Linked DNA regions of Homo sapiens. The protein of the gene in region 1 purifies or fractionates together with the protein of each later gene. This does not show direct contact. Each region holds a gene or a part of one and is shown in the gene's direction. Other genes may lie near its edges.

Evidence for each region.
Region 2: the proteins of SLC3A1 (region 1) and PLAT purify together in Homo sapiens (affinity purification with mass spectrometry; one large-scale study listed by BioGRID and IntAct). This does not show direct contact.
Region 3: the proteins of SLC3A1 (region 1) and DIPK1A purify together in Homo sapiens (affinity purification with mass spectrometry; one large-scale study listed by BioGRID and IntAct). This does not show direct contact.
Region 4: the proteins of SLC3A1 (region 1) and TXNDC5 purify together in Homo sapiens (affinity purification with mass spectrometry; one large-scale study listed by BioGRID and IntAct). This does not show direct contact.
Region 5: the proteins of SLC3A1 (region 1) and UGT8 purify together in Homo sapiens (affinity purification with mass spectrometry; one large-scale study listed by BioGRID and IntAct). This does not show direct contact.
Region 6: the proteins of SLC3A1 (region 1) and ATP6AP2 purify together in Homo sapiens (affinity purification with mass spectrometry; one large-scale study listed by BioGRID and IntAct). This does not show direct contact.
Region 7: the proteins of SLC3A1 (region 1) and PON2 purify together in Homo sapiens (affinity purification with mass spectrometry; one large-scale study listed by BioGRID and IntAct). This does not show direct contact.

What each region holds. Positions count from the first base shown.
Region 1 is NC_000002.12:44,305,958-44,310,444, forward strand, and holds part of SLC3A1 (amino acid transporter heavy chain SLC3A1), read left to right. Parts: intron 1-4,487. UniProt on the Homo sapiens protein: Acts as a chaperone that facilitates biogenesis and trafficking of functional transporter heteromers to the plasma membrane.
Region 2 is NC_000008.11:42,200,499-42,204,985, reverse strand, and holds part of PLAT (tissue-type plasminogen activator isoform 1 preproprotein), read left to right. Parts: intron 1-4,487. UniProt on the Homo sapiens protein: Converts the abundant, but inactive, zymogen plasminogen to plasmin by hydrolyzing a single Arg-Val bond in plasminogen.
Region 3 is NC_000001.11:92,954,535-92,959,021, reverse strand, and holds part of DIPK1A (divergent protein kinase domain 1A), read left to right. Parts: intron 1-4,487.
Region 4 is NC_000006.12:7,896,766-7,901,252, reverse strand, and holds part of TXNDC5 (thioredoxin domain-containing protein 5 isoform 1 precursor), read left to right. Parts: intron 1-1,571; coding exon 1,572-1,677; intron 1,678-4,487. UniProt on the Homo sapiens protein: Protein disulfide isomerase of the endoplasmic reticulum lumen involved in the formation of disulfide bonds in proteins. Can reduce insulin disulfide bonds.
Region 5 is NC_000004.12:114,604,645-114,609,131, forward strand, and holds part of UGT8 (2-hydroxyacylsphingosine 1-beta-galactosyltransferase precursor), read left to right. Parts: intron 1-4,487. UniProt on the Homo sapiens protein: Catalyzes the transfer of galactose to ceramide, a key enzymatic step in the biosynthesis of galactocerebrosides, which are abundant sphingolipids of the myelin membrane of the central nervous system and peripheral nervous system.
Region 6 is NC_000023.11:40,597,904-40,602,390, forward strand, and holds part of ATP6AP2 (renin receptor precursor), read left to right. Parts: intron 1-777; coding exon 778-831; intron 832-1,688; coding exon 1,689-1,838; intron 1,839-2,858; coding exon 2,859-2,978; intron 2,979-4,487. UniProt on the Homo sapiens protein: Multifunctional protein which functions as a renin, prorenin cellular receptor and is involved in the assembly of the lysosomal proton-transporting V-type ATPase (V-ATPase) and the acidification of the endo-lysosomal system.
Region 7 is NC_000007.14:95,403,681-95,408,001, reverse strand, and holds the end of PON2 (serum paraoxonase/arylesterase 2), read left to right. Parts: intron 1-933; coding exon 934-1,015; intron 1,016-1,754; coding exon 1,755-1,883; intron 1,884-2,513; coding exon 2,514-2,672; 3' UTR 2,673-3,140; downstream 3,141-4,321. UniProt on the Homo sapiens protein: Capable of hydrolyzing lactones and a number of aromatic carboxylic acid esters. Has antioxidant activity. Is not associated with high density lipoprotein.

The sequences.
Region 1 (4,487 bases):
ATTCCACGATGTCTGCTTTCCCCACTAGACAGTTCACTGGTTAAGGGCAGAGGCAGGTTCCCAGCATCCTTGCACGGTGCCCACCTCACACGGAGGTGCTCAGGCTCAGGGTTTGTTTGTTACTGGTGCTGTTGTTATTCGTATGCAGTTCAGCGACTTACCAAAGGTGTGCCTTATATATAGAGAGAGAGTTGCCTTACACTAGTCAATATCTTCTGTTGTACCCCCACAATACCTGTAGGTTTGATCTGGGCCCTGAAAAGTGGTATGATTTTGATACTTTTCGCACAGATCCTGCCAGCTATCTTACACAGCCTGATGAAAACCTGAAAGGATAAAGGAGAAAATGCAGCCTAGGCAGAAAAACACTGGCAGAATCTGTGAACCACAATTAAGCTTATTTCAATCTTTTCTGATGCTTTAATAGGCAGGAATGTGTGTTTCCATTGCCAGAGCCTTTCTCCGTCTGGTGAGGGGAAAGAGGCTCAAATTTTTAGGCATGGTAAAAGCTTTAATTTGTTAAATGTAAGTATTAAAACTATACAATTTTTAAATAACAGCTTTGTCGAGATATAATTCACATACCATAAAACTTTTTTTTTTTTTTTTTTTTTTGAGACGGAGTTTTGCTCGTTACCCAGGCTGGGGTGCAGTGGTGTGATCCCGGCTCACTTCAACCTCTGCCTCCTGGGTTCAAGTAATTCTCCTGCCTCAGCCTTTAGAGTAGCTGGGATTACAGGTGCCCACCACCACACCCAGCTAATTTTTTGTATTTTTAGTAGGGACACGGGGTTTCATCATGTTGGCCAGGCTGGTCTCGAACTCCTGACCTCAGGTGATCCACCCATCTTGGCCTCCCAAAGTGCTGGGATTACAGGTGTGAGCCACTGAGCCCAGCCAAAATTTACCGTTATTAAAGTATATAATTAAGTGGATTTTCGGTATATTCACAGAATTATGCAACCATCACCAATGTCTCATTCCAGAGCATTTTCATCACCCCCAAAATAAACCACATCTCCACTAGCAATAACTGCGCATGGCCCCTCCCTCTCTGTCCTCAGTCTCTGGCAACCACTCACCTACTTTCCGTGTCTATGGATTTGCCTATTCAGGGCATTTCATATAAATGGAGCTATACGATATGGGACTTTTGTGTCTAGCTTCTTTCACTTAACATAGTGTTTTCAAGGTTTATCCATGTTGTAGTATGTCTCAGTACATCGTTCCTTTTTATGGCTGAATAGTAACTTCCATAAAGCCCATTTTGTTTATCTGATCATGAATTGACAGAGATTTGTTTTCACTTTTGGACTATTACGAATAGTGATGCTATGGACATTTGTGTACAAGTTTTTATAAAAACATGTTTTCAATTCTCTCTGATATATATCCAGGAGTGGAATTGCTCCACTGGGCATATGGTAAGTCTACATTTAACTATTTGAGGAACTGCCAAACTGTTTTCCAAAGTAGTTACTCCATTTTACATTCCCACCAGCAATGTTACGAGGGTTCCAATTTTTCCACATCTCATCAAGCCTTGTGATGGTCTGCCTTTCTGATGATGGCCTTCCTACTGAGTGTCAAGTTGTTATCTCATTGCATTTTTTTTTTTTTTTTTGCATTTCCCTGATGGCTAATTTTGTTGAGGGTATTTTCATGTGCTTATTGGACATCTGCATGTCTTATTTGGAGTAATGTCTGTTCAGATTCTTTGCCTATAATTAAATTTGGTTGTCTTTTTATTGTTTAGTTGTAAGAATTCCTGATATATACTGGATAGGTGATTTGCAAGTATTTTCTCCCATTCTGTGGGCTTTCATGTCACTTTCTTGATAGTGTCCCTTGAAAAGCACAGAAGTTTTTAATTTTTATGAAGTCCAGTTGTTTTGTTGTTGTTGTTACTTGTACTTTTAGTGTTATATTAGAAACCATTGCCTGGTCTATTTATTCCAGCACCACATGCTAAAAAGACTATTCTTTGCTTCATTGGATTATCATGGAATCTTTGTTGAAAAATCAACTGATTGTAGGCTGGGCGTGGTGGCTCACATCTGAAATCCCAGCACTTTGGGAGGCTGAGGTGGGAGTTGAGCCCAGGAGTTCAAGTTTGCCTTGAGCCATGATTACACTCCAGGGTGAACTCCAGCCTGGGTGACAGAGTGAGACCCCGTCTCTAAATGTAAAACAAAACAAAAAAAAGAAAATCAGTTGATTAGATTTCCAGACTCTCAGTTCTGTTCATCTATATGTCTGTCTCTATGCCTGAACACCCTGAGTTGATTAGTGTAGCTTAGTAAGTTTTGACATAGAGAAGTATGGGTCCTCCAACTTTGTTATTTTTCAAGATTGTTTTAGCTGTTCTGGGTACCTTATATTTCCATGTGAATTTTAGGATTTCCATATAAATTTTAGAATAGCCAACTGGGATTTTGATAGGGATTGCATTGAATCTGTTTATCATTTTTGGCAATCATGCCATCTTGTCTTCTAATCCATGAAGACAGATGTATCTTATTTAGGTCTTTAATTTCTTTTGATGATGTTTTGTATTTTTCATTGTACAAGTCTTAGACTTTTTGTTCAGTTTATTCCTAAGTATTTTGTTCTTTTGATATTATTGTAAACTGAAGTGTTTGCTTAATTTCATTATTGGATTCTTCATTATTAGTGTATAGAAATACAATAGATTTGTGTATATTGATCTTGTATCCTAAAACATTGCTGAACTTGTTTTTCGTTTCTAATAGTTTATTGTGAATTCCTGAAGAATTTTTTTTTTTTTAATTTGAGGCAGAGTCTTGCTCTGTTGCCCAGGCTGGAGTGCAGTGGTGTGATCTCAGCTCATTGCAAGCTCCGCCTCCCGGGTTCATGCCATTCTCCTGTATCAGCCTCCCAAATAGCTGGGACTACAGGTGCCTGCCACCATGCCTGGCTAACTTCTTGTATTTTTAGTAGAGACGGGGTTTCACCGTGTTAGCCAAGATGGCCTCGGTCTCCTGACCTCATGATCTGCCTGCCTCAGCCTCCCAAAGTGCTGGGATTACAGGCGTGAGCTACTGTGCCTGGCCTTCTGAGGAATTTTTTGTTTTAAAATTATTGCAAAATATACATAAAACAATTTTAAACATTCAAAAGTGTGTAATTCAATGCATTAAATACATTCAAAATGTTGTACAACCATCACCATTATCAGTTTCTAGAACTTTTATCATCCCAAACAGAAAATCTGTACCCACTAAACAATAATTCCTCACTTCCACCACTAACCCCTGATATCCTCCATTCTATTTTCAGCCTCTATAAATTTGCCTATTCTAGGTACCTCATATAAGTGGAATCATAACAATATTTGTCCTTTTGTGTCTGCCTCATTTCACTTAGCTTAATGTTTTCAACTTTCCTTCATACATACAATAGCATGTATGAGATCTTACTCCTTCTTATGACTGAATAACATTCCATGGTACCTATGTAACACGTTATCTATTCATCTGTTGGTGACGTTTGTGGTTTTGCCTCCTTTTGGCTGTTGGAATAATGTTACAAACCAATGGTGTACAAGTATCTGTTTAAGCCCCAGATTTCAATTCTTTTGGATCTATACCATGGAGTGGAATTGCTGGATCACATAATACTTCTTTTGTTTTGTTTTTTGAGATGGAGTCTCACTGTATCACCCAGGCTAGAGTGCAGTGGTATGATCTCGGCTCACTGCAACCTCTGCCTCTGGGTTCAAGCAATTCTTATGCCTTAGCCTCCTGTGTAGCTTGGATTACAGGCATGTGCCAACATGACTGGCTAATTTTTGTATTTTTAGTAGAAATGGGGTTTTACCATGTTGGCCAGGCTGGTCTGGAACTCCTGGCCTCAAGTGATTTGCTGCCTTGGCCTCCCAAAGTGCTGGGATTACAGGCATAAGCCACTGTGCCCAGGCTTTTTTTTTGAGACAGGGTCTCACTTTGTCATCACCTAGGCTGGAGCACTGTGGTGTGAACATGGCTCACTGCAGCCTTGACCTCCTGGGCTCAAGCAATCCTCCTGCATTAGCTCCCACAAAGTAGCTGGGACTATAGGTGCATACCACCATACCTGGATAATTTTTGTATTTTTTGTGGAGATGGGGTTTTGCCATGTTGTCCAAGCTGGTCTTGAACTCCTGAGCTCAAGTGATCTTCCCACCTTGGCCCTTAAAGTGTTAGGATTACAGGTGTGAGCCACTGTGCCCAGCCTTGGATCATATAGTACTTCTGTGATTTTGAGGAACTACCAAACTGTTTTCCATAGTGACTTCTCCGTTTTACATTCCCATCAGCCATGTACGAAGGTTCCAATTTCTTTTCATCCTCACCAACACTTTTCTGTCTTGATTTAAAAAATTATACTCATCATAGTACAAATGAAGTGGTATCTCATTTTTTCATTATTGAATAACAGTTTTGCTGGATATAGAAATCTTGGTTTACAGTTCTTTCTTTCATCAC
Region 2 (4,487 bases), on another chromosome or scaffold:
TTGCCTCATGCAGTTCCCAGCTTGGCTTTTCCCTTTGGCTTAGTGATTTGGGGGTCTTGAGATTTATTTTCCTTTCATACCTTGGTAGTGTCACTTGAAGCCACCACGCCCGGCTAATTTTTATATTTTTAGTAGAGACAGGGTTTCACCATGTTGATCAGGCTGGTCTCGAACTCCTGACCTCGTGATCTGCCCTCCTCCTCCAAAGTGCTGGGATTACAGGCATGAGCCACCATGCCCGGCCAATTTTTCTTTTCTTTTTTTTTTTTTTTAAGATGGAGTCTCGCTTTTTCACCAGGCTGGGGTGCAGTGGCACAATCTTGGCTCACTGCAACCTCCACCTCCCAGGTTCAAGCGATTTTCCTGCCTCAGCCTCCCAAATAGCTTGGATTACAGGCGCCCGCCACCACACCCAGCTAAGTTTTCACCATGTTGGCCAGGCTGGTCTTGAACACCTGACCTCAAGTGATCTGCCCGCCTTGGCCTCGCAAAGTATTGGGATTACAGGCGTGAGCCACCATGCCCAGACAGGTTTTTCTTTGATTATTTGGCATTATGCACCTGCAGTCTCAGAATAAATTTTTTACTTTCTCTGAGTGATTTTCGCTTCTGCTTTGATGAGATTGTTGGGACGGACAATAAGGGACCAGTGCATTCTGCTCATTCCTTCTTGGGGCCATTTCTTTTGTATATACGGGAGAAAATGTCTGTCTATAGTGTCAGGCTATAAACCTCGTCCTAGTCAAGCAGCTCACAAAACCATATGGTGGGTCTCACATCAAACCAGGTAAAAGAGTGAGGATGATTTAGACTCAAAGAAAATTAGAGCTAGAAATAAATTTAAAGCTCATCCACCCTGCTCCAACCCTAAGTCAAGCCACATGGTCTTCCGATAGTGGCTCAGTTTTCTACTTACATAAAAAGACAGCACATTCTCTTAGCAATATGTGTTTGTATGTGTGTGTGTGTGTGTGTGTGTGTGTGTGTGTGTGTATATATATATATATATATATATAATTTAGAGACAAGGTCTGACTCCATCACCCAGGCTGGAGTGCAGCAGTGTGATCGTAGGTCACTGAACCTTCAAACTCCTGGGCTCAAGTGATCCTCCATCTCAGCCTCCCAAGTAGCTAGGACTACAGGGGCATGCTGCCATATCCAGCTAATTATAAAATTTTTTTGTAGAAGCAGAGTTTTGCTTTGTTGCCCAGGCTAGTCTCAAACTCCTGGCCTCAAGCAACCCTCTTGCCATGGCCTCACAAAATGCTGGGATTACAGGCAAGAGCCACTGTGCCCAGTCCCTCTTAGTGATATTTTGCATATTATATATTCAAAAAATATTTTCTATGTATGCCACTTGGGAAACTTCTGTAGAATGGGATAGAGGGACAGATAAACCCAATTCTTGATCCACTCAAAAATAACACCTGTGACAGAGTGAAGATGAAACAGGTGCTGGGCACACAGCAAGTGTTTTAGAAACATTTTTGAACTCAACTTTGCCTGAGTTGTGGTGCTGATCATGGCTGCCAGGAAATGCTAGCCAGCTGTTCTTCCTATACAAGTATATGACTGGGTGTCTGCAGCAGCTGCCCGGCTGTGAATTGCACACACCAATGGCCAAGACCCAGCAGCGACTTGGCTAACAGGCCCAGCCGATGTGCATGGGTGACCACGCGATGCTCCTGACACACGCACTGGTGGCTTAGGGAAGTTTTTTTGAGGATTGATCAGAAGATCTGATTCCACCTGGAGCCTCTGAAGTGATCACTTCCAGGTTAGGCTGAACCCAGATACCAGGAGACCTGTGTATTGAGAGCCTTTTGTTTTTTTTATGTAGTCACAACTATTCCATTAACATACAGCTAGGCATTAGAGAATCCATGCTGGACTCCTACAAAGGCCCCTAGATCCTTAGAACACTCAGAGATTCCAAAGCACACGTCCTCCCAGGACACCCTGGCAGAAGAGCCCGGGGGCGACTGTCACCTTTGCCTGCTGTCGGGAGCTGTGCTGATGGGTAGGGGGCTCTGTGCTTGCTGTGGCCCAGAGCCAAGCCGTGGGGATGTGCTCTGTCTGGAGCAGACCCCTTCACTGTCTGCCTAACTCCTTCGTGTGTTCCCGGAACAGCTTCTGTGTTATGCATTCCAGAAAGCCTGCCTGACCACCCCAACCTCAACAAGCCTGGGATGGACAACCTCCTCCACATTCCACTCCAAGCCCACCCCCGTCCCCACCCTGCTGCGTGGTATGGCGCTGCTCTGCTGTACCCTGAGTGTCTAGTTATTCATCAGGCCCCTTCCTAACTATGAGCTCTTTCAGGATAAGAGCTGTGTCTTTGCATCACCAGAGCCTGTGCCAGGGCACGGCTGGTGCTCCATACACGTTGATGGTGAATATATAGCATGGGTAGATCATTGTCTGTGAATGCTTAACAGAGAAGCAGCTCATGTGGGTGCTTGAGGGCTGGGGGGGCAGGGTGGGGGTCTGGTAGGCGCTGGGAGGAGGACATCCCTGCAGCTTCTCCAGCCCCATAGATGGGACTCTTGATGTGGGCAGTTTTTATTTCAGCTGAGTCTCCAGAAGGCAGGGGACAGGGACTGGGAGGGGATGCTAAACCCGATAACCCAGTATGGATGAGCTAACAGAGGCCGGGCACACAGCTCCTGCCTGTAATCCCAGCACTTTGGGAGCCCGAGGTGGGCGGGTTGCTTGAGCCAAGGAGTTTGAAACCAGCCCGGGTCTTGAACATAGCGAAGACTCTGTCTCTACAAAAAAATGAAAAAAAAAAAAAAATTAGCCAGACATGGTGGCACGCACCTGTAGTCCCAGCTACTTGAGAAGCTGAGGTGAGAGGATCACTTGAGCCAGGGAGGTTGAAACTGCAGTGAGCTGTGATCACGCCACTGCACTCCAGTCTGGGTGACTGGGCGAGACCCTGTCTCAAAACAAATAAATAAGAAAGAGAGACTACTGGTCAACTTGATTTCTGCTGGTTATTCTCTTTCTGTCATGTTCACCAAAAAGAGAAACCCGTTGTATTTTATCTTGTTGTAGCAAGAGCCGGTGTCTAACACCTGGGCTACTGAGAGAAAGCGAAGGGTTTTTTTCTGGGAAGCTCCAATTTCCTTATTTCTCTCACATGATGCCTCTGACTTTCATAGTGTGGCTTGGTCAGATGGGCCTTATCAATAGAGATGGCCTGATGTCTCAGCTGTGTCATCTCAGCTGCTAGTTCTGGCTTCTGCTGGGAGTCCACAGTGGCCTCTGCATGCATGGTGTGGGAAAGGCAAATAAAAAAGCAGATTAAAAACCAGATTAAAGACATCACCCTGTATTCAGGAAATAATGGCTCCTGTTGATACTGTTCTACGAACACAGATGAAGGCACAAAATTCTACATCAATTGCAGAGAATTGGTTATAGGCTAACACAGGTGGTCGGATGATCTAGGAAGCAGGATTCAGTATTAACGGGGATCCATGAGGACCCCATGAAGCGTGGCATCTCTTCTGCATCAGCAGCTTCAAGTTGTTCCAGGGAGAAGCGGGAAGCCTCAGTGCTTTTGTTGAGGAAGGATGTTCATGACAGTAGGTGCAGGTCGCTCCTGCCGTGCACCCAGGTGTGGGGGAAGGACTTTCCTGCTTCTTTTCCAGTTACCTTACAATTCAGCAAGACGGAAATGATTAGCCCATGACAAAAACCAGGAAACAGGCTCAGAGAGAGTGAGTTGCCCACACAGAATGTGTGCTGTAAATGCAGTTAGATTTCCAGGTTGAGAATCCAGTGACCACGCCCCTTCTTTGTGGCATTCTGCTGTCGTATACCATGTGGAACACATTAAGAACGTTATGGCCAGGCGTGTTGGCTCACGCCTGTAATCCTAGCACTTTGGGAGGCCAAGGTGGACAGATCACCTGAGGTTGGGAGTTCGAGACCAGCCTGGCCAGCATGCCGAAACCCTGTCTCTACTAAAAATACAAAAATTAGCCAGGCATGGTGGCACACACTTGTAATCCGAGCTACTCGGGAGGCTGAAGAAGGAGAATCGCTTAAACCCAGGAGGCGGAGGTTGCAGTGAGCTGAGATTGCACCGTTGCAATCCAGCCTGGGCAACAGAGTGAAACTCCATCTCAGAAAAAAAAAAAAAGTTACAATTGGGTGTCACATAGACAGTGAGGAGTAGTGGAAAGAGTGTTAGATTTGGGGTAAGAGAACTGTGTCTCCTGGGCTTGAGTCCTGATGCCAACTCTCACAAGATGTGTCACCGTACAGCACGACGCTTATACTTTTTTTTTTTTTTTTTTTGAGACAGGATCTTGCTCTGTCTCAAGCTGGAGTGCAGTGGTATGATCACAGCTCACTGCAGCCTCAAACTCCCAGGCTCAGGCCATCCTCCCACCTCAGCCTCCCAAGTAGCTGGGACTACAGGCATGTACCACCATGCCCAAATAATTTTTTGTATTTTTTTGTTGAGATGGGGT
Region 3 (4,487 bases), on another chromosome or scaffold:
GAGCCATCAAGCCTGGCTGAACCAAAGTATTTTAAAGTAAACCTCAGGCATCACATCATTTCATCTCAGTACCTCAATATACATTTCTAATAGATAAAGATATTTTCAGACATAATCATAATACCATTATCATGCCTAACAAAGTTAATAACAATTTATTTTTCCCACCCCTTTCTAGATATGCATCAACCTGAGATTACTAACTAAATTTGATTTGCCATGGAGTGAGTTTACTGTGATTTGGATGGGTCTCTCTGCAAAAAGCAAAACAAAAAACCCTCCTCTTATCAGCTCATTCATGCCACAAATTCTTATGAGGGAAACTAGTTTGATTTCATGTTTTGAAAGAATGTCTTAGAATACAGATGTCTGGTTTAAGTAACTTTTCCTGTGAATGAATGTATTATTTTAATTTAGAGTGAGGGTATAACTATTCAGCAGGTATAAGAGATCTTGTTCTGTTTGGGGGGAGGGGAAGGGTAAGAGTACAGGAAGAAGTTGGATTTATTTCACAGATAGAGGGAAGAGATGGAGGGCCAGGAAGAGGAGAGAAAGGTTGCAGAGACCAGCTTTGTATACTTGCAGTTATGCTGTTTGTCTTTAACTGGATGGGGTCAAAGACCAGTTATGTCCTGAGGTGTTCAGGCCTTAGGAGCTGTGAGTTCCCTTTTTTCTGCAGTGTACAGGAGAAAACTTTTAAGCAGTCAGCTTACTTGTAAAGGAACTTCATTCTCAGTATTTTTATTAATCCAGATATCACTGTGGCATTTGGTAACGCTTTTGGAAAACTGTGGCATTACACAATTAATGATATATTTTCAGCCATAATAGACATTCATGAGCTAATGCAGGCACCTATTCACTGTTTATAGCTTTGCTTATATAGCAGAAGAGATTCTACTGCCTGTGAAGAAAAGAACTTGTGTGGTATATGCATACAACAGAATATTATTCAGCAATAAAGTGAAATGAAGTTCTGATACACACTGTAACATGGATGAACCTTAAAAACATTAAATATATGAAACTAGTCACAAAAGATCACGTATTATTTCATTCATATGAGATGTCCAGAATGGGCAAATCTATAAAGACAAAAAGATAGATTAGTGGTTGCCTGGGGGGAAATGGGGAGTAACTACTGATGGATATGAAGTGTTCTTGAGGGGGACAGAAATGTTCTAAAATTGATAGTGGTGATGGTTGCCCAAGTATGTGAATATACTAAAACCTACTGAACGTTATGCTTTAAATGAATAAATTGTAGGATATGTGAATTATTAGTATATCTCCATAAAACAGTTGAAAAATAAATGAACCGAGTTTATCTCATGAAAGTCGTCCTTCTTCTCTCTGCCTTTTGCTGCAGATTCCACCAAGGTCAGCTTTTTGGTGCAGGGAGCACTTCTTCCAGGGGAGCTGGGCAGGCACACTGTTAGTCTGTGCAGCCTCTCTGTGGGCTAGAAGGACTTGTGACCTGCCTGGAAGGGCCAACAGACGTTTACCTGAGCAACAAGCTTCTCATGGCAAGGCATCTTGCCCAGAGCAAGCAAGCTAATTTACAGTTCCATGTTTTCCAGATATTTTGTTGAAACATTACTTGGGAAATAACACTTCCTGGACTGGCTAAATGATGCAGCACATTGAACAGAGTAGAATCCTGCCTCTGAGATCAGAAACTGTGGATGTATTAACTGCTTAAACCATTTTTAGGCAGTATTTTCTTCCACGTGCCATTATGGTGCATACTACTTGTGGCCTGCTTGGGTGTGATAACCCAGAATGACACCTGCATTTGTCTTTTTTTAGCAGTGTGTTTTCTACAAACTAAGATCTACTTTGTTTAGGGTTTACTCATAGTCTGAGTGAAGCTGATAACACAGCAACCCTATAATTTGTTGGTTTTGGTTTAAAATACCTTCTTCCTTCTCACCATCGTTAAGTCCTGAAAGAATGAAAGTCAAGACAATTCAGCATAATTCTCTGTACTTAGATTATACACATTTTCCATTCCAATCATTCTGCCTATGTGTTCTGTTGCATATGAAAAGTTGGTGCAGTTCTAATGGAATTTGAAGTCCCATGTACTTGGGTCCTTTGAAGGTTTTCAAGCCGTTTTGCTTGTAAGGGGCTTAAAGTTTTAGAAGTATCCTCTTGAAAATGACTGCCCTAGCAATTTCAGTATGTGTTCAGTAGGGTTGTTATGAGTGAATGGGTAGATGGCATGTTCTAGCTAGGGTGTTTGCACTTGTTTAACATTTCTGATACCTGGCACTTTGGCTCGTATTAGTACAATTTTTCAAACATGACTGCTGTGGATGGTTTGGTTCCTTATGAGTTAATGTGGATATTTTGTGAGATTTAGTGCCAGACAGGGTTACTGATACAGATTAATTGGTAATAGTAGTAATGTTGCCAAATACTGTAGTAAAAATGGGCTTTTTGCCCATTTTCAGTCTCCAGGATTATTTTAAATCTAAGGATAATTAGAGCCTATGGTTGTTCTCTATCCTCCAAAGACAATAGAGGGAGAAGATCTGTAGTTTGTATAGTTCTCATTAACTTTATTAGACCTGCTGTTCAGAGATTAGCTTTTGCCTTTGCCTGAAATTTAATCTCCAGAACTATGATTAGCTTTCTGAGACTGGTATGTGTACAGAGAGCCACTTGATATTACCATTAGTTGCTTTTGAACCTTTGTTAGAAGCTCAAAGAAATGGTGAATTCTCAGGCAGATTGCATCCTTACCACATTTCTTTCAAACTGGACCATACAGTAAAAGTGTTTCTTCACTGTAGTCTTCTCAGTGCCTCAGATTTTTTTTTTAAGTTAAAGATTTAAAAGTTTTTAGAGCCATTTTAAGTTCACAGCAAAATTGAGAGGAATGCAGAGAGATTTCCCATATACCCCTTGTCCTGACACATGAATAGCCTCCCTCCTTTTCTTTTCTTTTTTTTCCCCTTTTCTTCTTTTCTTTTCTCTTCTTGATACAGGATCTCCCTCTGTCACCCAGGCTGGAGTTCAGTGACACAATCATGGCTCACTGCAGCCTCTACCTCCCATACTCAAGTGATCCTACTGCTTCAGCCTCCTGAGTAGCTACAGGCACATCCCACCAAGTCCAGCTAATTTAAATATTTTTTTAAGAGACAGTGGTCCCACTGCATTGCCCAGGCTGGTCTTGAATTCTTGGGCTCAAGTGATCCTCCTGCCTTGGCCTCCCAAAGTGCTGGAATTATAGGAATTAACCACTGTGCCTGGCCCCTCCCCTATTTTCATTTTTTTTTCTTTTTTCTTTCTTTTCTTTTCTTTTTTTTTTTTTTTGAGACAGAGTCTCACTCTGTCACCCAGGCTGTAGTGCAGTGGTGCGATCTCAGCTCACTGCAAGCTTTGCCTCCCAGGTTCATGCCATTCTCCTGCCTCAGCCTCCCAAGTAGCTGGGACTACAGGTGCCCGCCACCACTCCTGGCTAATTTTTTGTGTTTTTAGCAGAGACGGGGCTTCACTGTGTTAGCCAGGATGGTCTCGATCTCCTGACCTCGTGATCTGCCTGCCTTGGCCTCCCAAAGTGCTGGGATTACAGGCGTGAGCCACCGTGCCCAGCCCCCTCCCCTATATTTAACATCCCCCACATAATGGTACATGTTTTACAGTTAATGAACTTACACTGACGTATTATCACCCAAAGTCCATAGTTTTACATTAGAGTTCATTCTTTGTGTTGTACATTCAGTGTGTTTGGATAAATGCATAATGACATGTATCCATCATTATTGTATAGAGTGTAGTTTCACTGCCTTAAAAATCTGTGCTCTGCTTATTTATCCTTCTGTCCCCACTGAGCCCCCAAAAGCCACTGGTCTTTATTGTCTCCATAGTTTTGCCTTTTTCTAAAATGTCATCTAGTTGGAATCACGTAGTATTTTAGGTAGCCTTTTCAAATAGGCTTCTTTCACTTAGTAATATGCATTTACGTCTCCTCTATGGCTTTTCATGGCTTAATAGCTCATTTCTTTTTAACGCTGAATAATATTTCGTTGTCTGGGTGTACCACAGTTTATCCATTCACTTACTGAAGGGCATCTTAGTTGCTTCCAGTATTTGGCAATTATGAATAAGGCTGCTACATAAACATCTGTGTGCAGGTTTTTTTGTGGAGTGCCCCAGTTTTTCATCTTGATGGATTATAGTATTATTTTTTATTCTCCATGAAAGTTTTCTTTTTTTGTAGCAGTTAGGTACATTTTATTGTTTTTATTTTTAAAAGTTGTTTCTAAAAGCAACACTATATCATCCTGTTAAATACCATCATTTTACATTGTCTGATTGAAGAGGTAAGGTGTTGTCGGCTGGGCACGGAGGCTCACGTCTGTAATCCCAGCACTTTGAGAGGCTGAGGCAGGTGGATCACTTGAGGTCAGGAGTTTGAGACCAGTCTGGCCAATGTGGCGAAACCCTGTCTCTACTAAAAGTACAAAAAATAGCCG
Region 4 (4,487 bases), on another chromosome or scaffold:
AGGTGAGGGCAATCATCTTTGATACCGCAGATGTTGCAGTTGCTTATCATGTTGAACTTCGTGACGTAGCCGGTGTACTGGCCAAATCTAGTTAAGTTTTGGCTGTTTTTTGTGGTTATGAGAGTCTGAGCTGCTGAGGAAGCTGGGTGTATATTCTGCACTGGAGACACATTAGGGACCCTACCTATGCCCCATCATACCATCTTAGGTTCTGGGTAAGGCCAGTATGCTGATACTAATTTCAAAGCCTAATCTAGCCATGTGACTTCATTTTAAGGAGAATTAGCCATTTTTTTTTGGACTGAATGTGTGTGTACCCCAGCATTCATAGGGGAAATCCTAATCCCCAATGCTGGCAATAGGAGGTGGGGCCTTTGAGAGGGAGCAGGTTATTAGGGTGGAGCTCTCATGAATAGGGTTGCATACCTTATGAAAGAGGCCCCAGAGAGTTCTGTTTCCCCTTTTGCCATGTGAGGGCACAGCAAGAAGACACCATCTGTGAACCAGAAAGCCCTCACCAGACACTGACTCTGCTGGCACCTTGATCTCAGACTTCCCAGTCTCTAGAGCTAGGCGAAATAGATTCTGTTGTTTCTAAGACACCCAATCTGTGGTCTTCTGTTACAGCCGTTGAACTAAGACACTATTCAAACCTTCATGTCAGATTTTACATATGTTGCCGTCTTACAATTCTGATACCGTACATTGGGCATTTACTCACAAAATCCACATACGCGCTGTAGAAGTGGCAGGGGTGTTTAGATGAGCAGGCTTGCTAACAAATGGTACTCTGTATTTCTTTTTTCTTCTATTGGTAGTCACATTTTTGCCTATCCTTGACACCTTCTATGAATTTTTATCTAGAGTATTAGAGCACGTTTTCCCGTGACTGCTGGAGGGATACAGGAACTGAGTGTTAATTTCATCCTCTGGTGATGTCTTTTGCTTATGGTTAAAGGACCTACTCCCGTATCCTCTCTGCAGATTCCTTCAGAGGCCAACATTTGTAGGAAAAAGAAAAGATTCCTTCTCTATGGGAAGGTGAATGGACAGCATCAGTCAATGTCAAGGATGTTCTTATAGCTGGAAACTTGAATTCTCACAGTAACTGGATATTCAGGCCTTGTAAGAGTTGAATACCTGCCAGGTGGCCTGGAAGAATACCTTAATTGCAAAACAACACCGTGTCTGCTCCAGTCCTAATTTGAACACAGACAACAACTGCTGAAGCCGGGAAAGCATAACAGTAGCTTGCAGGGAAGGCCCGAGGCTGCTGCAGAGGAGCACTGAGTACTGTAGCTTTTGAGGCCTCAGTCACAGCAGCGGGCTGGAAGTTTTCACCTCATTTTAGTTTTCCTTGAATAAAACCAGAAACTTCTGAAAGTTTAGGATTAACTGAATGTATTATCTCCTGGAACGTTATGTTTGTTTCCTTTTTATCAGAGAGGAGCAGATACATGCCTGGCTGCAGCCCCTTGACAGCTCATTTTCTGATTGTTTCACTAAATGAGTTTGCTCTCTGATAAGACAACTTTCTTTTTGCTCTGTCTAATCCTTTGTTATTCTTTCAGCTTAAAGCTTTTCAAGCCAGGCCAAGAAGCTGTGAAGTACCAGGGTCCTCGGGACTTCCAGACACTGGAAAACTGGATGCTGCAGACACTGAACGAGGAGCCAGTGGTGAGTGTCTACCTCCTTCCCTCCCTCCCTCCCTCCCTCCCTCTCTCCCTGCCTACATCTTTGGGGTAATATGTAACGGGGCAGAGGCCAGTTGAGGTTAATGATTAAGGCTGCCATTTTAAAGCAACTCTACTTTTTTTGGAGCTTATTGGTATTACAGGTAAAGATGAACTTTTACAGAAACTTTTTGGTGTGGAAATACCTAAATGTGCACAAAAGTCAAGAGAAGGCTAAACCCTGAGTTTCAGCAGTTACCACCATTTTGGTGTTTGTCTTCCCCACCACCCTGCGCCTTGTTTGGCTGTAGTCAGTCTTCAGGGAAGTCACTTGTGTGGCCTCACAGATAAGCACTTACTCTTTGTTAACACTGCCACCCTGCCACTGTCACAGGTAATACAGTTCACAACTGTACCCCAGCATCAGAGACTGACTCTGGACCACCTGGGGTCAGGGCTGGGCCCAGCCTAGAATCTCCTATCCAAGCCAGCACTGGAGCCTCCTCCCATCCCCCCGACCTTTGCCCTCCACCACCTGCAGCCCTCTGGCTCGGGCCTAGCCCGACAGCTGTACCCGTAGGGTGGATCCTTCCTTTTCTTCTCGGTGCTCAGTCCCCGAGTCTCTAATGGGCTTTGCTTATAACATCATTTTGTACCATTAATACTCTGTGTCTTAATGCACTTCCCTTACTAAGGCTAATATCAGGAGATTGTAGACTCTTAGAATATTATGTACTAAAAAGGATTTATAATCCTCCCCCTCCCCAGTTGATGTTGGAAGTCTTCACTTTTTTATAAATCATCATGATCATAAACCACTGGTTAAGTGTTCCTTTGTGGGTGGTGCCTTCTGATTAATGCCGAGTGCTCAGGTCCCTGGATGCCGGGTAGACCTGGTGGGTCATGCTGCTGTGTTGGAGAGGGACTGGAAAAACACTCGTGTTCCTACACTGTAGGATCCTGATGAGCTAGGAAGAGCATCTGAAGTCTTTGTAATTTCAATTTCAACAAATACCTAAGACTACCTTCTTGTATCAGCTAAGCGCCCACTGATTTGAAGGTGGTCTGTGGTGGTCCTTTTGGAGCTTTGCCGCTTACTGTTGCCAGTTTCCAGTGTGTCTGTGCGGCTCTTCCGCTCTGCCCCATCTTCTCTGATGACCTAATCAGAAACTTGGCTGCTGATTCAGTGCTTCCATCCCTCACCTGCAAAGACTCTCTCAACTCGGCTGGGTGTGGTGGCTCATGCCTGTAATCCTAGCACTTTGGGAGGCTGAGGCGGGTGGATCACCCAAGGTCAAGAGTTCAAGACCAGCCTGGCCAACATGGTGAAACGTCGTCTCTGCTAAAAATACAAAAATTAGCCAGGTGGTAGGTGCCTGTAATCCCAGCTACTTGGGAGGCTGAGGCAGGAGAATCACTTGAACCCAGGAGGCAGAGGTTGCAGTGAGGCGAGATCATGCCACTGCACTCCAGCCTATGCAACAGAGCAAAAACTATCGTGGAAAAAAAAAAAAAACTCTCTGAACTGTATGGTGGAGACTGTTGGTGTGTGATGTTATGTCGTTGAACCAGAGACTTACCTAACTTTAGCTAAAAGAACCACAGACCTCTCAGGAAATTTGCATCTTTGTCCTGGCAAGAAAGCTGAATGAGCAGGTGTGACTTTCATAGTTTTCAATTGGACATTGTTTCCTTTGTGAAAATATTCTCTTTGTGGGGACACATATATTGGATGGTAGCAAACCAATTTTAAGGAGGAGTTAATAGCCTCAAATAAATTTCACCAAAAAAGCCAGTCTTCTATGATGGCTTTATTCAAGAAACCAGCAGCCAGTATCAGGACGGCAGAAAGACCTCATCTCATGGCCCATTTCCCTTAGTGGAGGTGGCGGCCTCACCTGCAGGTTGGAAAGGGCTGAGAGGCTGCGTCCAGGCTCTGCAAGGGACTTTCTGTCTCCTCAGTGTGGGAGCAGGATGGCCGCGTGTAATCCCCCCATGCCACCCCAGAACCACAGTCACCAACTTGCCATATTTTAGTGTCTCCAGCAATAGCAGGCCCCAGATAATTGCCAGAAACAATGACAATGCGCCTTATTGTGGAAAAGTTTAAGTATATACACTTTATACTGCAAACCAGAATTCTCTTAGCTTTTTAAGTGAAAACTTTAAAAAAAGTTCTTTATCTGTATACCTAAGTAACTTAGTACATACATTTTTTAATATTCACGTGGGATAAATTTAGATTTTTTTAAGTGTTGTGGCAATATTCAAGAAACTCAAAAGACAATTTGTCACTTTGTACATTCTACTGCAATTTTTGTATTTCCATGTTTGCTTCTGTATTTTTTCTTGAACAGTTATACAAACATGTTTCATCTCATTAATGATTTTATATATTTATGTGGTCTTTATGTTGATCATGTCTTATATTATTTTATCATGTGGATTTGCCATAATTCAACTCTAATTCTGTCAGTGGATATTTAGGTTATTTATACCTTTTCCATCATCAGTAATGATGTAGGGAACAAGTTTATCTTTGTAAAGGACTTTCCACCCCCCCTTCTTTTGAGTGATATTTTTAGAATATAGTATTCCCAGACATAAAATTATAAGGCCAAGAATAAAAAAAAAGATCATTTTTATGGCTCTTGATGAATATAGCCAGGTTTCTTAAGCACCATATCAGCTTATGCTGCCACTGTAGGGCAAGACGTGACCTGTTTCTGGGATGCACTGTGGTGTTCCCATGCCGGGGGACTGCTCTGGAGTCTGCCAGGAACCCAGGAAGCAACTAGAGGCCCCGCATGTGCC
Region 5 (4,487 bases), on another chromosome or scaffold:
AATGTTTACATCTATGCAGTGGTTTGGAAGTCAACCAACAATTGCACATAGTACATATTGTTTACTAATTGGTTATAAGGCATATAATAAATATTTGTTGTCCCAATACATGTTTGTTGAATAAAACAAAATTAGATATTCCATATTTTTAAGATGAAATGAATTTTATATCTGTAGTTTTAATATTTAATCATATTCTTTACCTGAAAATCGCTAGCCATACTTTTCGTTTTCAGCACTTCTCTATTTTGCAGTTGTGTTTCAGTGCTTTTTTTTTTCCCACTGTGCTTAGTCCTTCACGATTTATGGCCCTGTTATTTGTAAAGCATAGTAATCTAAGCAGGTGATTTTCAGTTTAGGATTTCTTCTAGTTCCATGTTGTATATTCACCAAGTCAGTTTTAGACTATATATTGTCATGCTCAGCACTCCCTTACAGAGATAACAGATGCCAAGTTGAAATTGACTTATACAGAATGCCACACTTAGGTAAGTGTTTAGGAGTGCATAGCCAAAATAAAAATGGTACCTTTGGTTTATGAATGGCAGGGCATCTAGGACAGTGTAGGTCAGTTCGTATTCTCTGGATGGACATTTATGTAAATATTAAAACATTTAGATTAGATGGAAAGATGTATAGTAGGAACATTTCAGAGATACTGTTTCCTTGTAGCATTGTACTATTTATCTGAATTGTTAATTTGGAATAATCACTATATTGATTTTATTTTGAAGATATAATTTATTTCCATTGACTTGATATAAATAACAGAAATGCATCTGCAAGGAATCCAGTTCATTAAAGAAATTTACATTCGTATCTGATTTGGTAAATATGTGCTTGATTTGGGAATATTATATAACAAAATATTTGTGAAATCATTTTGTACTTTTTAATTGTTTTGAAGAAATTTAATACTCAAAATATTTCAAGACACCAAATCATGACTTTTTAGTTATTACATTAAGCTATAACTTGCTTTAATGAGTAAAAACTGTGGGGCTAATTTTCTTCCAAGTGAAACATCAAGTTTAAATAATGTGCACATGAATTTACAAAGTAGAATCAAGTGTGCAAATATGCTATATGTTCTGTAATAGGTTCTTGAAAAGCTGTATATAAACTCAGCTTTTATAAGTTGAGTCATATTTATAGAATAAGAAAATAGGGCAAACATTTAACACTTCTTAAATATTAAGTGATGGGCATACAGATGTTTGTTATGTTAATCTTTATATTTTTCTGTATGTTAGAAATAGTTTACAGAAAAAAATTGTGGTTAGTGACATTAAAGCACATTATATATTAAATATACTCAGGGACTTTGAAATTTAAAGCAATATCAACATACAATTTACCATAGAAAAAATCCTATTCTGATTTTATTAATACCTGTTTTGCAAATTCAGAATTTTTAATGGGTTTAATTAAGCAGATACACACACAACAACAACAACAACAAAAAACTTGGACACACTTCTGTAACACATCTTGAATATAGTCTCATCTGTTGGAATTTTTTAAACTTCTACACTTAAGTCTTAATCTGATTCTCCCTCATCCTCATAATATTCATTATTCAGAGGAGAGGCATCAACAGGAAGAATTCAATTTTACTTAAATAAAAATTTTTTACTAGCAACGGAATGAGTGATTCAGTGGTGGTGTCTTCCTGCTTTGAGAGAGCTGTTCTAAGACTAGGCAGTTAGTCTTAGGCCTAAGACTAGGCAGTTAGTCTAGGGGCTCCACAGCAGGCCCTTCCTCTGGGTTCTCTTTATGAAGAAGGCCTTTGTGTTTTACATAGATTTTGCATTTGTGCTGCTGTCCCTATTGAGTTGTTCTCACCAAGCCAATCTGGGGAGTAGCTCTTAGGGGAAAACTAGTCAAACAGGTTTGCCTGTCTATTCAAAAGGAGGGAAGAACGGTGAAATGTATGGATAAAGGCCAAGAGTAAAACTGTTTTAAGTAATATTCATGCTAATCACTGACTGTTGGTTTTGAAAATACTTTGTAGACATTTGTGAGAATGTATCTTAATGGAGATAAAGTAAGAGAGAAACTGGAAGGGGAAGTAGTTTAGAAGCAGGGGATAAGGACAAGATGGGGAGAAGGAAGGGAAAAACAATGGAGGCAAAATAAGCTCAAGAAGGAAAGAATAGTGTTTCAGTGTCATATCTGGGCTTTATGTAAACTGGGTGTGTTATAGCAGGAAACCATGGTATTGATCTGAGAATGAATTTAATTAAAACAAACAAAAAACCCCCACATGCCTGTGATCCTCAATGTCCAAAATAGGGAGCGTCTTGCCAGGGCAGGGCTGAAGTTTACTAGGAATATTGGTGGGAAAATGTTATAGTTAACCATCTCTGATACTAATCTTATATTAGAGATAATACTTGGTTTCCCCTAGTAAAGTGTTAGAGTCATACAGCTTTATTGTAGTTTGCAAATCTATTACACATATATTTCTACTGTTTAGTTCTCATTCTGCCCCTGAAGCATAGCCCTATAGGTAGTAGCATTTTACAGCTCATAACTTGGTAGAGTCCCAAGTAACCTTTGGAAGTCAAAATGACAATCCAGTCTGGGGAATTTGATGTTAAAACTAAAGCTTCTTGCCTAGAACAAGTTTTGGAACTATAGCTCACCACCTGCCTCATGTTCTGGGAATGCTGAACCTTGATCCCACTGAAATTACCTTTAAGTAGTCTTTCTGTAGTCCTCAGTAATCTCCTCCTTTGCTCCATGCTTCTTCCCTGCTCCTTGAGAGTTCCTTCTCCTTTCTCATCTGTAATGGTAACTCCCCATCTGATCTTTGGTTGTGCCTCTTCTTCCTTCCTGGCATTTTTATTAACATCTTTTGTCCCAGCACCTCTCCTCTTCTCTATTCTCACTCCTTTGGTGTAGTTATTCATGCCCATAGACTGGATTTTTATTTATATATAGATGATTCAAAAAGCTGTATTTCTAATTGTGATTTCTTCTATACTCTCAAGAGCTTAGAGTTCCCAGCTCAACTTCCTAACTCAGATCTGACATCCCCATTTGCCTCAGTCTTCGAAGACAGATTTTGGTGTTGTGGAATTCACTTTTTTACCCTTTATATCTAATCTATTCCTAATTGATCACTATGTCCTTCATGAAGACCTTCTTCCCTTGCCTGAGTCTTTCCATTCACCTCCTGATGTCTTGGTGTAGTCCCACATCACTTCTTCACCAGTGGTACTAAATGACTCATTTTCACCATTACCTGGGCCTTCCATCACCTCCTACTGCCCACAACCATCAGTCACTTGTCCTTACTGACCCACTTGCCTTCTTTGAGTGTGATTTGACTATGCGTTTATTTTCACATGGGGATCCAAAATTTTTAGCATGGCTTTCGAGGCTGTCTATTGTCTAGCTGCTTTCTGATCAGACTTATTTATTTTCTCATATTGCTCAATAGGATTCTATCCTGTTTACCCACTGGGGCATTCATTTCAGGATATCCCCCCGCTTGAGATGTCCTGCCTTTTTTTTCTTCTGCACTTCCAAATTCTCACCCAAGGTTTTGACACTCAAGTCCCACCTCAGACTGTGGCTTCCCAGTCTCTGTCACTTTTCTGTGACTTTGATTTGTACATATATTGATGTTAGCAATTAGGTTTCATTCTCCCTCTAAGGAGAGTATGAACTCTTAGAGGGTGGAGTCTCTTGTCTCCTCATACACCTTGGACAAACACTATTGATCAGAGAGAAGATATTCAAACATGATTGAATGGTATCTTTAGTTTGTCATGAGGCAATAAGGGTAAGTTTCCTAATTTTCTATACGTATTTTGATTTTTTCCTGTTGTTTTTTCCAGAACTGCATCATTCAAACTTGAAACATTCCCCTATTTTTTTTTAACAAGGTGTTCTATATAGGAACAACATATCTTATAGGGATTGCTACATTATTTAGTCACAATGGAAAAAAAAGTTTGATATATAGAAAGATTATATAATAGTTACATGGAACTCTACTATAAAATTATAATGGTTTAGTGGGTTTTCTTTTTTAAATTTACCTGGGGCTTCTATAGGTGGATGTGCATTCACAACTAATTCTAGGTAATGCTAATAAAAGAAAATAATCACGGTGATAATTAACTGTATTTAGTTTTTATTTTGTATTTACATTTCAATGTAAGTATGCCTAATGTCATGAAACCATAGTTGGAGAAAATAATGATTATATGCATGAGGAAGATAACTTAGGAAGCATTCTAATTGTCCAACTCCCCACTTCCCCATAGACCTTTTATAACAATTAAATCAAAGCACCAGCCCAGGAATAATTCTTTTTTCCATTCTTTGTGCCTATTTCCTCCTTTGATAATTGCTGAATTCTTCTGGTCAGAATATCTCCCTTTCCATCTCCCTCTGAGCAGAGCAATAGGAATAGGAATATATTTTAAGCCAGGTGAAGTGGTGCAGGTCTGAGGTCCAGCTACTCTGGTGGC
Region 6 (4,487 bases), on another chromosome or scaffold:
ATTTACTGCTGGGGTAGATTCTTCTTTAGTGTAATTTTCTTATGACTCTCATGAATAAACTGATCCTTTTTGTGAGTTGAGCTGTGGTAAATAACATCACATTTTAGCACGAGGGTTGCCACCTATTAATTCAAACAAGCCAGAGGTCATAGATCTACTTGGTGACTGGTGGAGCTGTGTGGATCTGGTAACTTGGAAGCCATTGTTCACTGCCTCTGCTGATTTGTTGCCACATTTTTCTCATTCATTCTGGACATTGCAGTGGAGGGAGCCACCTCTACTTTTGACTCCTGTCCTTCAGTTTCTCCATCTGCTCATGCGCCCTCTTAACCATGTGGCATGCCACTTTCGTGGTGGCCTCCCCTTTTTATTTGCTGTGGATGACCAGGGCCATCATCCTTTATTCTCTGATGTGGAAACTATTCAAGGGAAGTGAGCAAACTGGGCCAATGGTAGGATGTCATTGCAGAGTGCCAGGATATCCTGATGCTTTGAAGGAAAACCACTGGAGAACTTGGATGCTTTATCATGGTTTTGCCAAAAATATAGCTATTGAGTGGCAGTCACTGTGCTAGGGAATGGCCATCACCTTTTTGTTAGGAAATAATGTTTTATATGCATTTTCAATTGAAGCAAACATACCAAATGGAAGATAATTATATAAATTCACTTATATGATCAACATTTGTAATATCCTGTGCCTTGCTTGGTAAATGGCAAATAAAGATCTCTGGTGCACATTTAAAAGAATGCTCTTTTTTTTTGGGCTCTCTGAAGGTTGACCTGCTCTTTCTTTCTGAACTGCAAGTGCTACATGATATTTCAAGCTTGGTAAGTAGGCTGCTCTAATTTTTTAATTCCATTTATTTTGGTTTCTAGAGAATCCTTGAATAATAGTAAAGGCAGTTGAAAAGTTTGATTAAGTATGCCCTAGATTTATGATCCCATGAAAATTGAAAAATTAGTGGCAATATTGGGAATTTTGAACACATCCATGTTATAGTCAAATTATTTTGCATTTCTGCTTTTTAGGGAGAGACAACATATCTTCCAAGAACACAAGCCTGGGCGTAAGAACACCCTGGCCATAGTCCTAACTTGGCTGTTGATTTCTTGTGAGACTTAATTCCTATCTATATCTTTGGGCCTAAAATAGAAATAATAGTTTGGACTAATAATGCTGTCAGTCAAGTCAAGAAGGGACGAAATCCGTCTGAAGGGTATTTTTTTGGTGAATGATTTTTTAAAAATCATCCTTGTTACTGAAATAGAAATTCTTATCTGTTTGCTACCTTCTGAAGTTGTTTTCCAAACTTTTTCAACAGGTGTTGGTTCGGGGAGTCTGGAAGTGTAGTGCATTCCTGGGATCAAACTGGTCCAGCCATCTGTTCTTTCATACGTTGGCCCATACCTGAGTTTTTAAAACTGAGGAATTTTGTTGAAAGCTTTTATTAAATATCCAAGGAGTCTTGTACTGCTCCTAAACATGAGATTCGTGTTGGATTTATCAGAAACGCTTATTCAAACCAGTTTCTTTTGCCACCATTTTAGACTATTTGCATGTTGTGGTACACTGGTATGGTTTAGTTTAGCCTAGTTTAGTTAGGCATAAAACTTTAACTGGCTGTGTTTGACGTCTTTCATCTTACTTTATCCGCTACCTTTTTTTGTTTGTTTGTTCTCCTAAGCTGTCTCGTCATAAGCATCTAGCCAAGGATCATTCTCCTGATTTATATTCACTGGAGCTGGCAGGTTTGGATGAAATTGGGAAGCGTTATGGGGAAGACTCTGAACAATTCAGAGATGCTTCTAAGATCCTTGTTGACGCTCTGCAAAAGGTAAATATCAATGCGACATGAGAGGTTGGAGTATGACCATTTCACTTTTAGCCTCTTAATAGAAAAATCTGCTGTTTCAAACACTGTTGATTGAACTCTTATTTGCCTTCTTTGGGGCTCCTCTAATTATACTGGCCAAGGATGGAGTAGGGTCAAAAATGTATATTGATATATTTCTTCCTAATGCTAGAAAGAACAGCATTAGGAAAAGTTATCTCACACAAAGCTTTACAAAATTATTGTGGTAAAATATATATAACATAAAATTACCACTTTAACCATTTTTAATTGTACAGTTCAGTGGTATTAAGTGCAAGTACGTTCACATGTTGTACAACCATCACCATCTTCTATTTCTAGAACTTTTTCTTCTTCCCCAACTGAAACTCTGTACTCCTTAAACACTATGAGATAACTGAAGTAGAACACCCAGCACAGTACCAGACAGTAGATGCATAATAAATGCTAGTTCCCCTCTGCCCTTGAAGTTCTTCACCTGCATCCTTTCAGTGAGGCTTCATATTTTAATCTTTATAGATGTTTGTGATTAACCAGAGACCACTTAGGAAGATTTCATTTCTCTTTCCAACTTCCCTTCCTCCAATTTATATGCTGACAAATTCAGTCTCTTCTTAAAGTAATTTTAGTCTAAACATTTGAATATATGTTAAAGCTTAACACTTTTCTGTATAGTTGAGCAAAATCAAAACCTTTAAGACTTGCTTATTGTAAGATGTAGTATATTTCATGAGCCAGGAGGTAAGTGTACATTGTTCTTGTAGCTGCACAAAAGCTTTAAAAATAATTTTAATAAGTATGTATTTGACTCACTGCATAAAATGATAAGTAGGAGGTAATGCATATGTTAATTAGCCAATGTGGACTTAAGCCATTCCACAATGTGTACATATTTCAAAACAATATGTTGATGTGATAAATATATATGATTTTAATTTGTTAATTAAAAATGAAAAAAGTACATAGTTGAGATTCCCAATAATGTTAATAACTAACTTTCAGTTTGCAGATGACATGTACAGTCTTTATGGTGGGAATGCAGTGGTAGAGTTAGTCACTGTCAAGTCATTTGACACCTCCCTCATTAGGAAGACAAGGACTATCCTTGAGGCAAAACAAGCGGTGAGTATATTTTGAGATCCTGCTTTAAAACTGTAAAATTAACTTCTTATAAAAAAAAAAAAACCAAGTCCTATATCACCTAAGGGTGACATGAATGAGCAGTCAGTAAATCTGAAAAACAATTTCAGTTAAAACGTAAGCTTCTTGTTCACATACATATGTGTGCTTTGCCAGTGATGATCAGTTCTTTAGGGTTATAATCAGATAATGCAAGAATTTGAATTAGGGATAAAAGTAAATCTGTCCAAGATTATAATTCAAATATCAGTACACACAAGGAGATATCAGAAGTTAATGTGGCGCCAGGTGCAGTGGCGTGCATCTGTAATTGCAGCTTCTCAGGAGGCCAAGGCAGGAGGATTGCTTTAGCTCAGGAGGAGTTTGAGGCCAGTCTGAGGAAACATAGCAAGACCCTGTTTTGAAAACAAAAAGAAGTGAATGTGTGCGGGAGTGGTGTGGTGCCCACATCCTATGGGCTCTGCTTTTCTAGCAGGCACATTGTCTTTGTGGCGTAGTCCCTCACTTACTGAGATCCTCTGTGTGCACCTCTTTATGATTTTGATTTACTTAACAGTTTTTTTGGGTATGGATCTTGCTTTGATTTTAAGCATTTAGAGGGTCAGGGTTAAGCATTACCATGGTTGCTGGCCATGGTAAAATACATATCTGTTTATGTGTATGTACGTGCACATTTACATACATACATATATACTTACAGCTGCAGCAGAACCTAGGGAGGGTGATGGGAAAGAGTAGTGTAGATGCTCCCTAACATCCTACGTCTGAGAACATTGCTTAGGGCTGGCTGTATCACTTGCAGCAGATAGATATCCACTCAATTACATACACCTCCGCTTCAGACCCATTTGCAGCCCTCACCCTGCTCAGTTTTACTGAAGTCAGTGTGGGACTTGGAGTCGGAAGGTCGAAGCCAGTGCCTGTTTGAGATAGTCTAGCGATTACTGGTTTGAGATTGTTTCTTTCTAAATTAAATTGGGGATGGAAGGACCTTTGTTTCAGACAGCATGTCAGTCTAGACAACCACCCAAGATTTCCCACCATAAAACGTCTAGAAATGCTAGATAAAAATAAAGATCTTTTAAAAAGTACATAGTTTGGGCTGGGTGTGGTGGCTCACGCCTGTAATCCCAGCACTTTGGGAGGTTGAGGCGGGCGGAACACCTGAGGCCAGGAGTTCTAGACCAGCCTGGGCAACATGGTGAAACCCCGTCTCTACTAAAAATACAAAAATTAGCCTGGTGTGGTAGCGGGCACCTGTAATCCCAGCTACTTGGAAGGCTGAGGCAGGAGAATTGCTTGTACCCGGGAGGCAGAGGTTGCAGTGAGCCAAGATTGCACCACTGCACTCTAGCCTGGGAGACACAGCAAGACTCCGTCTCAAATAAAAAAAAAATTACAAAAATAAAAATACATAGTTCAGCTCGCAAGAAAGGGAAATTCTCTTACAGAGTAAATAAAGAAGAGGAGGCCGGGTGCGGTGGCTCACAC
Region 7 (4,321 bases), on another chromosome or scaffold:
CTTTCTATGCTTTAGACAAAGAACTCATTGTTTTAAACATTCCTTCCTCTTCTTGCTCCTGTGATTCTGCTCTTGTGCTTGCTTCTGCCTGGGAAGTGCCTCCTCCGTCCTCATCTCAAATCTCATCTCTCTTTACACAGCCACTGCAGATGCCCCTTCCTTGGTGAGCCTTTCTGTGTCCTCGGAAGTTAGCTATTTCTAGACCTGAACTATTTCTCATGCTTATTAGGTGTTTAATGTGTACAAACCAGTGAGATTTGTTCCAACACACTATAAACTTTCAAGGAGAGAGGCTGTGTCTTCTTCATGTTTATATCTGCTGCAACACTGAGTTCATGGCTTTTCACACATAATTGCTCAACAGAGCAGGTGCCATGGAAAGTCAATTCAATGAGTAAAATTACCTCAAAATAGTCTGTTAATTCACTCACCTTTGAAGTAGACAGATTATTCTGCATTGATACTTATCTCTTACTCTTAAAATTCGCTATGTATTAATAAATATTTTATTGAATATTAAGGAATGATCACTATTTTAATAAGATGTTCTTTACCATATATTTCTATATGTACATGATAATTAGAAGTATCAAATTATATTGTGGAATGTAAAAGCTTTTCTTCTGAAGCCAAGCATTTGTTTTATTGTCATTTCAGTGGCAAATATGGACTTCATATTCAAAATGATGTTCTATATTATTTTTCCTTACAAGCTTTTTGAAAAACAATTTAATAATTCCATGATTGTTGTAGCACCACTGAATTGATTCTGAAAGCTTACTTTTTAAATAAAAATTGACCTTTATCAAGCATTCCTTGAGGGCCCATGATTGATTAACTTCTTGGCAGGTTATTAAGACTTATTCTTTCACACTGTATTAATGAAGCTTTATATTGGCATGGAGCTCTAACCACTGTGTCCTTTCTGCAAAGGTATATCTATGTTGCTGACATATTGGCTCATGAAATTCATGTTTTGGAAAAACACACTAATATGAATTTAACTCAGTTGAAGGTAAAATATTTATTTTTACATATAGACAGTAATCTATTATGCTTTGCAATGACATAGTTTTTCTATAAGAGTACCACACGTAGAACAAAATATGGATGCCAGTGTAGCTATTCTGGGTTTTTAAATACTCCCTACAACTAGAGAAAGCTCCTGTTTCCAGCGATCTCAAGAACTGACCATGATTACATGCAGCAGCAGGTTGAGAGTGATATTCATCAGATTTAGGGCCCATTCCATGAAGTATTGATGGCAGTGGAAGAATTCCAATAAGAATTTTCACAATTGAAAATACTAATAGATGAATTCTCAAATGAAGGTTTATGCACAGTGTCAGTTCTTTCAATAATACATGAAGGTAGAAATTGGGTTCCACACCATTATTATTTTCTTCCTACTCAACAACACATATTTTAGGTTGATTAAGAATTTCCTATCTTGCTTTGATTGAGTTCCTTGAGCTAACTGATCATTGTGCATCTTTTAAAGGAAAAGGAGTTCAGTTTTTAAGATAGATTTTTACAGAGACCGATTATCACCCTAACTTTCTTAATTTCAGGGAAGAAGAAAAGTGGCTCCAAACCAGTTTTTAATACATTCCTTTTAAGCAATATTGGTGTTAGAAGGTGGAAGCAGGGCGATGTGTAATTTCCTCACATGCATAGAGGCAGGAAGGTTACCTCTAAATTATTTAATCAAGTTTCTCATGTCATTTAGATTTTGACAATTTCTCATTTGGAAGGTACTTGAGCTGGATACACTGGTGGATAATTTATCTATTGATCCTTCCTCGGGGGACATCTGGGTAGGCTGTCATCCTAATGGCCAGAAGCTCTTCGTGTATGACCCGAACAATCCTCCCTCGTCAGAGGTTTTTATATTTTCAGTTTTTTAAACTTAATTATTCAAGTCCTTTTGAACTAATAATACAATAAATTGTCACAGGGATGATTTGTTTAGTTATTTTAAAGCAATAATATAATAAGCTTATGTCGTGGTTTTGTAATTGCGTTAAGCCAATAATTGGCAGAATGTTACATTGTTCAAATACTTTAAGAAAGGTAATCTTTTGATGTATTAAATTATGGTGGAAACTAGTCAAAAGGCATTTTTATAAAGACATGTGCCCTTCTTGGGTGGTATACTGGCAATTTTTAAAATATCTGATTTATTGTCAGCTCACCACATGATGTGATATTTGTTCATGTTGAAGTAGTGTGAAAGTAGGCACATTAGTATGAAAGTATTTCTATTAAAGCTGAATTGCTATAATAACACTAAATCCTGTGTTGGCATGGAATAACTAGATGGTTTTAAGAAAGTACTTTCTTTGAAGATTGGAGAAAGTACTTTAATTTAAACATTAAAAAGATTGGTAACTGCTATTTTCAACAGCATGTCCCCTTAATCAGTGTGTCATTGTGGAAAACAGGGCTTATTGATGATTGAGTGACATGCATGTACGGTGGTCTTATATTCATACTTTGTATCCCCTGAATAGGTTCTCCGCATCCAGAACATTCTATCTGAGAAGCCTACAGTGACTACAGTTTATGCCAACAATGGGTCTGTTCTCCAAGGAAGTTCTGTAGCCTCAGTGTATGATGGGAAGCTGCTCATAGGCACTTTATACCACAGAGCCTTGTATTGTGAACTCTAAATTGTACTTTTGGCATGAAAGTGCGATAACTTAACAATTAATTTTCTATGAATTGCTAATTCTGAGGGAATTTAACCAGCAACATTGACCCAGAAATGTATGGCATGTGTAGTTAATTTTATTCCAGTAAGGAACGGCCCTTTTAGTTCTTAGAGCACTTTTAACAAAAAAGGAAAATGAACAGGTTCTTTAAAATGCCAAGCAAGGGACAGAAAAGAAAGCTGCTTTCGAATAAAGTGAATACATTTTGCACAAAGTAAGCCTCACCTTTGCCTTCCAACTGCCAGAACATGGATTCCACTGAAATAGAGTGAATTATATTTCCTTAAAATGTGAGTGACCTCACTTCTGGCACTGTGACTACTATGGCTGTTTAGAACTACTGATAACGTATTTTGATGTTTTGTACTTACATCTTTGTTTACCATTAAAAAGTTGGAGTTATATTAAAGACTAACTAAAATCCCAGTTTTGTCTGTGTTTAATTCTGAAGGCATATGGCTAGGAGAAATGGGAAAGCAGCTGCTTCCTTATGGAGTTTGGATAGGCAAGCATGGCCATATTAATTTCTCTTGTGGAAAGCTGAAAGTGAATGGACTCTTAATTTGAAACAACAACAACAAAAATCAATGAAATATTGCAACTCAAATTCCCAGTTCCTAAGGAGGTTTCCATCAGCTCTCTTCCTTAATGGGAGTCCACTTTAGAGACAAAGAGGAAATAAGGGTTGGGACAGGAAGGTCTTGCCACCTCCTCATTGAACAGAACTGTGAACTAAAGCCAGGAGAATGAAGTCAGTCGTCCGTGACCACATGGTTAAGCAGCAGCAATGCTAGGATCAGGGCCGCGTGCCCAGCTCACAGAGGGAGAGTTTTTCTGCTCACTGTACCTCCTATAAAATCATCATAAGCCCTAGAGAGAGACTTTCATGTGTTTCTTTCCATTGTAATTTATCAAACCACTTTACTTCACTTCTCATACTTTTTCCCTATCATCATCATGAAAATATTTGTCAGTTAATTACAATATGCCAAACAATGCAATGAAAGTATTACATTCGTTATCTTATTTAATCCTAATTGCAGCCTGGAGTAAGTATTGATATTATATCACTGTTAACATTTCACAGATATTCAGTCTATTTCTGATGCCAGAGCCTGTACCGCTAACCACTACATGATGCTACTGCCATAGAACGAACTAGTATTTTATTACTGTTTTTCCTGATGTATACAGTTTCTTCATGTTTTGTAGATATGTTTGAGTTCTGCTTTTAGATGAATCATTTAATGGATTTTAAATTTAAATTTCAGTAGTATTCTTAAATTTGGCCTGTATCCATTTGGCCTGTGTTGTTATTTATATATTTAAGTAGTTTGCTACATATTGTATTGGATTTATTTCATGCTAAAATAATTATTTTCTTTTTTGTTTACATTGTCCATGGGAAAATGCTAAGTCACAGATGAATACAGCAAGATTAAATATTGCAGACCTAGGGATCCAAATGAAGAACTAGATGTTTTAGATTTTATGAGATTATATCAGACTATCTAAAAAGCTACATTTATAAAAAGTACTGGAATACAGTAGGCATAAAACAAACTTGGTTTCTATTGCATTTATTACAAATTTTAGAACAAAACCAT